Linked DNA regions of Homo sapiens: region 1 is reported to be linked to region 2. The links are microRNA targets in miRTarBase. Many come from high-throughput screens and were not tested one by one. Region 2 holds a microRNA gene; the other region holds the end of a gene's coding sequence.

What was found. The annotated mature microRNA hsa-miR-5703 reads AGGAGAAGUCGGGAAGGU and lies in region 2 at 2,411-2,428, shown strand. An mRNA with a match to its seed (bases 2 to 7 or 8) in the 3' UTR can be bound and repressed. Matches are read on the target gene's strand: a 7mer-m8 pairs with bases 2 to 8, a 7mer-A1 pairs with bases 2 to 7 and ends in A, and an 8mer does both.
Region 1: miRTarBase lists PTCD2 as a target of hsa-miR-5703. Seed matches in the 3' UTR shown: 7mer-m8 at 3,370-3,376, 7mer-A1 at 1,671-1,677 and 8mer at 1,606-1,613.

Annotation. Positions count from the first base shown.
Region 1 is chr5:72,357,521-72,361,912 of GRCh38, reverse strand. PTCD2 (pentatricopeptide repeat domain 2) reads right to left here. Exons shown (of 10, transcript NM_024754.5): 10 at 1-3,710. The coding sequence ends at 3,486. Among named protein-coding and RNA genes, the nearest start is that of PTCD2, 39 kb to the right of the region's middle.
Region 2 is chr2:227,469,752-227,474,143 of GRCh38, forward strand. MIR5703 (microRNA 5703) reads left to right here and starts at 2,381; the gene lies at 2,381-2,436. It overlaps AGFG1 (ArfGAP with FG repeats 1), which reads left to right and starts at 2,405. Exons shown (of 13, transcript NM_004504.5): 1 at 2,405-2,837. The coding sequence starts at 2,671. LOC124907994 (a long non-coding RNA gene) reads right to left here and starts at 2,348. Exons shown (of 2, transcript XR_007088114.1): 1 at 1,409-2,348; 2 at 1,037-1,238. RefSeq lists an enhancer at 1,318-2,281 and a silencer at 2,394-3,113.

The sequences.
Region 1 (4,392 bases), not on the chromosome of region 2:
ACATGGGGAGTTCACCTAACCAGGTGAGACTAGACCAGAAAGCCTTCTCAGATGAAAAGATGTCTAAGCCAAGACCTGAATGATGAGTAGGAATTAGCCATTCCACAAGAGGGGAAGAGGGGCGTAGAGTAGCAAGAGTTGGAGCTGGATGGACAAATGTGGGCCAGATTAGGAAGGACCTTCTAAACCATGTTGAAGAGCCTGAGCTTTATCCAGAAGCATGTGAGGTCCTCAGGAGGTTTTAAACAGGGGAGAAAACAGACTATCTACTACAGTTTCACAGAATTTATTCTTTGAAATTCCTACCACTGAGATGGGATATATGCTCCCTCCATTTGAATCTGGGGGGGCTTGGGACTTTAGTGGAAGTGATGTTATGAGACTTCTGAGACTAGGTCATAAAATGTAACTGCTTCTGCCTGGTCCTCTTGGGACAGTCACTCCTAGTACCTAGCCACCATGCTGTGGGGAAGCTATGTGTAGACATGTTCCAGCCCCAGCACTAGCTGAGGTCCTAGCATCAACTGCCAGAAATACTAAGGAAGCCTTTGAGATTATGCCAGTCGCGGCCACAATCTGATGATGACTATAACTGCATGAGAACCCGAATAAGAACTGTCTGGCTGAGCCCAGTCAGTACTTAGGATAATGAGAAATAACACAATGACTGGTGTTGTTTAAAGTCACTGAGTTTTGGAGTGTTTTCCACACAGCAATCAATAACCAGAACTATCCCTGATATCACCTAATTAAGAAGATATCTTTTTGTCTCCTTCTAGTAACTGTGCTGAACTCATCATACTGATTTCTGGGACTCTGGAGCAACAGATATCTACAGTAAGTAAAAACAATCTACAAAAGCACATAACAGAGTTAAGGAATAAGATGTTCTGTCCAATCAAATATTTTCATTAACAGGATAAGTAGGCCAGGTGCGGTGGCTCATGCCTGTAATCCCAGCACTTTGGGAGGCCAAGGCAGGCAGATCACTTGAGGATAAGAGTTAGAGACCAGCCTGGCCAACATGGTGAAACCCCATCTCTACTAAAAAAATACAAAAAATAAGCCAGTGTGGTGGCACACAACTGTATTCCCAGCTACTTGGGAGGCTGGGGCATGAGAATTGCTTGAACCCAGGAGGCAGAAGTTGCAGTGAGCTGAGATCACACCACTGCACTCCAGCCTGGGCGACAGAGTGAAATTGTGTCTCAAAAAAAAAAAAACCCCAAAGCAGAAAAAAACAAGTAAATGATGTAGGCAAACTACTGCTTATAAAGAAACATCATTTTTTCAAAGGAATTACTGAGTTTTAAAGAATGAAATGCCTATCATAACCTATACTGAACACTGTTTTATTGGACTTTTAAGACTTTAAAATCATCTATTACTTTGGGGTGAACATTATGCATATAGCTACCTCTGTACTGAGGTTTCTGGGAACAGGTGGAATGGACCAGTTTTTCCAGTCGGCTGGGCAGCAGGGATTGGGAAGCTTGTTGCTATTTACTGCTCACAAAATTTGGTTATTTCGCTAATGAATGGTTGTTAGCTAACAACCAAGGCCACACTCACCCACAGCACTGGAGCCATTTGAACTGTGAGAGTTGGAGAAGATGAAAAGTAAGCTGGGGGGACAGGAAGCATGCCCTATTATTCCCTAAGACTGAAAGTGGAGAAATCCAAGCACTTTTTTTTTTTTTTTTGCATGTGCAAAACACCAGACACATACAGAAACAATTAGGATTCTATGAGGGCAGAGAATTTGTTTCTCTAAATGGGGCTGTTCAATGTTTCACAGAGCACAAGGACAAGAAATTCAATATTTTTGAGCAGAAGGAAGAACTCATTTGTTTTTATAATTCCTTAACTAGTTTCAAACATATTGCATGTACTATGTGCCAGCCACTATCTGCTTGCTTTATATTCCCTATCTCATTTCATCCTCACACCAAGCCTAAGAGGTCGGTACCATTATCCCCATTTACCAAATGAGGAAACTGAGGATGCCCAGGGCCACACAGTAATGGGGGCCCTTAGTATTCTGTTTCTTAAGAGCTGCTCCTTTTTCCCCTCTGAAAAGAGATAATGTGGTACAGTGGGAAGGATACTAGACTAGGAATCTGGATTCTAATCTCAGCTCTACCACAAATCAATTATACCAATGTGCGACTCTCATATGCGGATCCTGTCCTCAGGTGGGATTGTGATCTCAGACCTGGATTCAGCAAACACCTGAAGCTGTGACTCTCTTACTGGGACACAGTCTACAGTTGAGATTGGGCCTCTCTTGCATGGATCGTTTCCTTAACCTGAAAGATGAAGGAATTAATTAGGAGACTCAGAAGACTTCTCCTAGTCTACAATTTCTGACTCTATAATCCTTGCCTTAGAACAACAACCAAGTGAACAGTCTTAGTTTTGGAGGTGGCAATGAAGAGTCTGCAGCAATCTTGGCAGACAGCTCCTGAGGTCTGAGCAACCCTCTGGGCTTTCTGAAACAAAAGGAGCAAGTGAGGTGGGGTCACTGTGTATCTTCTGCTCACTGGTGACCAGACACGGTAAAATTCAACACATACTATATTTGAGACCATAAGTATGAAGCAGCTTTGAACTGCTCTCATGGCACATTTTTTTTTAATATGAGGCATTCAAGAGAGAAAAATCATTAACAAATAAGATAAACTATAGGACTAAATATTTATTATCCACATAGAAACCAAAGCATTATGTGGTTTTTAGTGGCACTTATTTTGAAAAGCACATGGCTTACCCATGAACAAAGCAGTAGTCATTTAAATTTGGCTTACTCAGCAGTCCTAAAGGCTAAATTCTGGTTTTGTTTGTGCTGCTGAGAAAACAAAACAACCACAATCCCAGCAAGTTTCCTTATGAACCTTATTTCTCTTATTTTTGAGAAAATATGATCCTACTAAACCTTGAATGAAGATTTCAAATCTATATGCAAAGACACATAGGCATTATTGTTTTGCAGATGGAAAAATAAGGGCTCAAGTCATAGACATATATGATGGCAGAGCAATGAGAAAATCCTGGGCTGTTTTCTAACATGGTAAAATAGGGTTTCATACCTCCTGAATTCAGCAAGGATGTAATTTGCAAGTAACTACTCCTTTGAAAATCAGAGTTATCCACACTTGTAGTGAAATTCATTCCTGATGGTGCTTACTGGGTTCCACTCTGGTGTCGGAAGCTGAACCGGAGACTGACCAGGTTCCTTCAAGGATCCTCAGCCATGCAAAAGGGAAGCGCCTTTCTGAGGGAGCCAAGCTTGCATCTAGACCTTCACAGTGGTGCAACATAACTTCTCAGAGATCGGCATGGTACCATTCAGTGAATTTGGGAATTTCAGGAGAAGACCAAGTGTCAGCACACTGTCTGCTGAAGTGCGATACCTGGCTTCTTAGGAAAGGTAATAACTCACTAGAAGCAGGCCCCTCAGATCCATAGGTGGACTGAAACCAGGGTTACTCAGCCAACAGGGACTGGCTGAGTGGCTGGAAGGTGCGACGGCTGACCATCCTCTTGTTTAATAGCAACGTGTGAGATTTCCTGTCCCTGGGGGTGTGGCAGAGCACAGCATCCAAAGAATCAGTGGTGACCTGGCCAGTGATGTGCAGTGTCCCATAGATCTCATCAAATTTGGCCACAAGGGCAGGCACATCCTTCACTTTTTCCCTCACTTTGGCCAGCTGGAAAAAAGCAAGAACACATCATTACATCTCTGCAAGATTTCTTCCTTATTCTTACTATAACCCTAAGAAAAAGAAATGGACATGAACAAAAATGTATGGTAGGCCAGGCGAGGTGGCCCATGCTTTAATCTAAGCAATTTTGGACGCTGAGACAGGAGGACTGCTTGAGCACAGGATTTCTAGGCCAGCCTAGGCAACACAGTGAGACTTTGTCTGTAAAAAAATTTTTTTAAAAATTAGTTGGTGTAGTGGGAGGATCACTTAAGCCCAGGAGACAGAGGCTGCAGTGAGCTGTGATCGTGCCACTGTACTCCAGCCTTGGCGACAGAGTGAGTCTTAAAAAAAAAAAAAAGTATGGTATACACCTAAAATCGTGAAAACCAGGGTACTGGGGCACACAGACAGCAGTATTACTATGAGGGATTCCAAAAGCTACACACAAAATTCAAAATTAGTACTTGAAAATCATACCTAATATAAAAAAAGGGGGGTTCAAATAACACATCATATATAATGAAACACACCAAGTAAAGGAGGTCATATACCAGTGGAATCAACTTTGTTCAATGTAATGATTAGAGCAGGAGGAGGCAGGGCCAAATTACATAGGCTTTATATATATTCCACAATAAGTTTTTTGAAATTTATTCTAAAAAAGCCATCAGAGCATCTAAAGTGG
Region 2 (4,392 bases):
CAGAATGGCAGAATTAGAATATCAGTATTTTCTAATCATTAATGAATTAATGAATCTAGACATTAATCATCAATGGTTACCAACATCATGAAAAAGATATCCTCTCCTCAATTATGTCCCTCTTGATGGAAGAACACAATGAAATGAATGCCTGCCCCGCAAAAATACTGAACTGGATACTAGTGAACTAGATCTAACTACCAATTTTTAGGAAATAGAACAGAGGGACATGTTAAATGATACAGATTATGAGAAACTCTACAGAATAAAGTGCCCAATTACTAAAACAAATGAATTATAATTAAAAAAAAAGAGATGGTGGAGAGACCCAAAGAAACCTTATGAGACATATTACCCAGTTGCAAGGAGTGGGTTCAAACAAACTGTAAAAATCTCATTAAAATATTGATAATTGCCAACTTAAACACTAGTGCGATATTTGATGATCTTTAGGAGTTATTAACTTTTTTTTTTTTGAGGCGGAGTCTTGCTCTATTGCCCAGGTTGGAGTGCAGTGGCACAATCTTGGCTCACTGCCACCTCTGCCTCCCAGGTTCAAGTGATTCTCCTGCCTCAGCTTCCCAAGTAGCTGGGACTACAAGTGCATGCCACCATGCCTGGCTAATTTTCATATTTTTAGTAGAGACCCGGTTTCGCCATGTAGGCCAGGCTGGTCCTGAACTCCTGACCTCAGGTAATCCACCTGCCTTGGCCTCCCACAGTGCTGGGATTACAGGTGTGCGCCATCGTGCCCAGCCTATTGTTAACTTTTTAGATATGCTAACGGTATCATGGCTAAGTTTGAAAGAGATAAAGTTTTTATTTTTTAGGGATACAAATGGAACTATGTACCATTTAGATGAATGGTACGAAACCTAGAATTTGCTTTAAAATAATAGGAGAGGGGATGGAGGGTTGAGGTATTTATAAAGCAAGATTAGCCATGGGCTTAATCATTGCTGAAAGTGGTCCATGGGCTCATGGTAGTTTGATATTTTCCATAATAGAAAAGTTTAAAAACATTCATTGGCCAATCTATCTGTCCATTTCTTTTAATATTAAAAACATTAATTATTATTAGTAGTATTATATTAATATGAAGTCTCACTTTGTTGATTCACCCAATCCCTTTCATGAGAGATGTGGAGGTTGGTCTTGGCTGTTAGGAAACGTAGATTCTAATCCATTCAACAGCCCAGTGATTTGAGAACTTCAGCTCTCTGGGTCTCCCTGTACTCCTTTGGAAAACGAGAGACGAAGTTGATTGTTGCAGTGGGGATTTGGGTCCTGCAGTCTGGCTGTCTGGGTTGGAATTGAGCTTCGCCATAGGTACCCTTGGGTAAATTTACTTAATCCCTCAGGGTTTCATCTTCCTGTTTTGTAAAATGTAAATAACAATAACGCTCACCTCGAAGGGTTGTTGTGAAGATTACATGAACGATTTCATGTATTCATTCCGTCAACATTGAACACCTAGTCTCCAGCTCTGCGAGGGGAATGGGGTGGAGTGGCACAGAAAATACGGGGGCCAGGCTGTTTAGCGCCTAAAGGGAGAGTCCAGATCACCCATGGTAAACACGAAATAAGATGCAGTATTTCAAATAGCTAGAACTGAGACGAAAATACAACGCAGCAATTTGATGGAGAGCAACTTCGAGAAAGGTGAGCTGCAACATTAACTCGGCTGATCTGGGACAGTCTGGCGGGGGAGGTGACATCTGAGCCCCACCTGACTTAGAGGATGTCAGCTATGGATGATCCGGGTTTCCACACGCAGCAGTTCTCAAGCCAGGTGACTGCACCGCCCTAAAGTTCCCTCCACTTTTGGCAATGTCTGGGGATTTTTGGTTGCCAGCAATGGGAATTGGGGGGTTTGTTCTTGTATCTAGTGGGTATAGGCTAGGAACGCCGCCCAGTATCCTACAGTGCACAGGACACCCCAAGCCCCCCCAAATTAGCTGGCCCAAAGATAAAGAGAGAAGAGCAAGGGCAAAGGTCCTGCAGGAGTCAGAAAGGAGCTTGCTGTGTTCAGAAAACTCAAAATCCAGTGTGGCTGAGTGAGGACGACGAAGAATGAGGTAGACTGGGCTAGACTATGGAGCACTTTTTACGGCACGGTGAGGAATTTGGAATTATACTCAAAGCAGTGGAAAGCCCTTGAAGAGTTTTAAACAGAAGGGGAAGGTAACCCATGTGAAACGCTTTGCATATATAAGCGCTCAATAAATACTGTCTATTATTAATATTATTATCACCATTGTGTCTACCCTACTTGGCTCCAGACCCGGCCCATGCCTCAGCGAGGCCGCAGTGACTCCTCCTGGCCAGCAGAGGGCGCCAGCGGACACTTGGCTACCGGCCGCCCAGGGCGGGCCTCCTCTTGCCGTCCCCTTCCTCGTCTTTTCCCCTCAGGAGAAGTCGGGAAGGTGGCGGCGGCGGCGGCGGTTGTCCCGGCTGTGCCGGTTGGTGTGGCCCGTCAGCCCGCGTACCACAGCGCCCGGGCCGCGTCGAGCCCAGTACAGCCAAGCCGCTGCGGCCGGGTCCGGCGCGGGCGGCGCGCGCAGACGGAGGGCGGCGGCCGCGGCCAGGGCGGCCCGTGGGACCGCGGGCCCCCGGCGCAGCGCTGCCCGGCTCCCGGCCCTGCCGGCCTCCTCCCTTGGCGCCGCGGCCATGGCGGCCAGCGCGAAGCGGAAGCAGGAGGAGAAGCACCTGAAGATGCTGCGGGACATGACCGGCCTCCCGCACAACCGAAAGTGCTTCGACTGCGACCAGCGCGGCCCCACCTACGTTAACATGACGGTCGGCTCCTTCGTGTGTACCTCCTGCTCCGGCAGCCTGTGAGTGCGGGGCGGCCGGGCGGGTGTCGGGCCCTTCCCGGGAGGTGGGGGAGCGGGCGGCGGGACCGGGACCCTTCCGGGGCTGGGAAAGAGCCGGGTGCCGTGGGAGGCGGTCGGGGGCGGCCGTTGGGCGCCGGCTGGCGGGCGCGGCGTGGGAGGCTGCGGGCTGGATGCGCAGGGCCCGGGCAGCCGGGCTGGGGATGCGTTTTCGGTTTTGCCGGGCGAGGGTTTACGTTCTGGGCAGCCTTCGTGGGTGGGACGTGGGCGGGGTTGGGGTCAGGGAGGGGGCGACCGGGGCGAGCGTCCCTGGTCTCCGTCGAGCCTGCGGCCGCCGCCCTCGCTCTCCAGCTACCCGGGGCGCCGGGCTGTGGGGGGTGGGGGAAGACGCTAGGAGGCCGGGGGGGAGGTCCATGCGGGTCCTTTGTGTGCCCCGCCTCTCAGCGGCCCGGGAGCCGCGGTGCGGAGCGAGGCACCTGCTGGGCGCTCCTGCTGGGGGTCGGGGAGAAGCTGGGGTGGGAGGGAGGGACGCCTGCCTCGCCCGTGCCTTTTTTCTGGGTCGAGAGTACCTACGTAACTGGGAGGAAGCAGGCACTTAGGAATAGTAGCAGGATGAAAGCATCTTGATGGCAGATGTGAATCCCCTGGGAAAAGTTCGAAAGGATTAATTGCGGGAGGGGGAGGCAGAGGAGCAGATTTGAAGCTGTGGGATTTTAGTTTTATGGTCCGAAGAGAGTGTTGAGGAGTTGGGGGAAAGTTTTAATGGCAATAAGGTACCCACTAGGAGCTGTGTGATTCTAAATATGATGGAGTTATCTGTGAGATTTATCTGTATCTCGCTATCAATACCCGAGTGCCCTGGCTGTACACAGAAATGAGGAGAGCTAGCAAGTCACCATGATTTCAGAAAGACACTACCGTCCTGAGTTACTGGGATGATTTGTGTTTGTTGTTCTTTGCTTCATTAAGCTTTATTTTGATAAAGATTTTTATTGCCGTGCAATTTCATTCGGAAAATTTGCAGGTGGTTTTGGAATTGATAAAATGCTTTTATATTATTATCTTGTATTTAAAGTTACTAACAACGTGGCAGTTACTAAGTATTTTTAAAACCTTTGCTTGTAAGATTAATACAAAGCACATAATACTTTATGTGGGAAAATTGATTTCTTAAAACTTAGAAAATGCAGAACATGTCTAGTATGTACTATTTGCTTTTTAAAGTTGGGCAAAGAGGCATTATTAGTATTACATGAGTGTTATTTCTTCAGCAGACATTTTTTTTGGTGCCTATTAGGTTGTGTAAGGCCCTGGGGTGTGCCAGTAAATATAGCAAAGTCTTGTTCTCTTGGTTCTTACAGTCCAGTGGGGATGCAAAAGTAAGAAAAATGTCTTGGGCAAGTACTATGCTGAACATGAAAATTGTTTGATAGGAGAGTGCTCATGGTTACTTTTAGGCTGTGTGGCCAGGGAGACACTCTGAGAAGTTGCCAGTTAATAATATTCTCGAATTACTACAGAATCACAGAGCTAGGTGATATCAAGGAGGTAGCCTGGT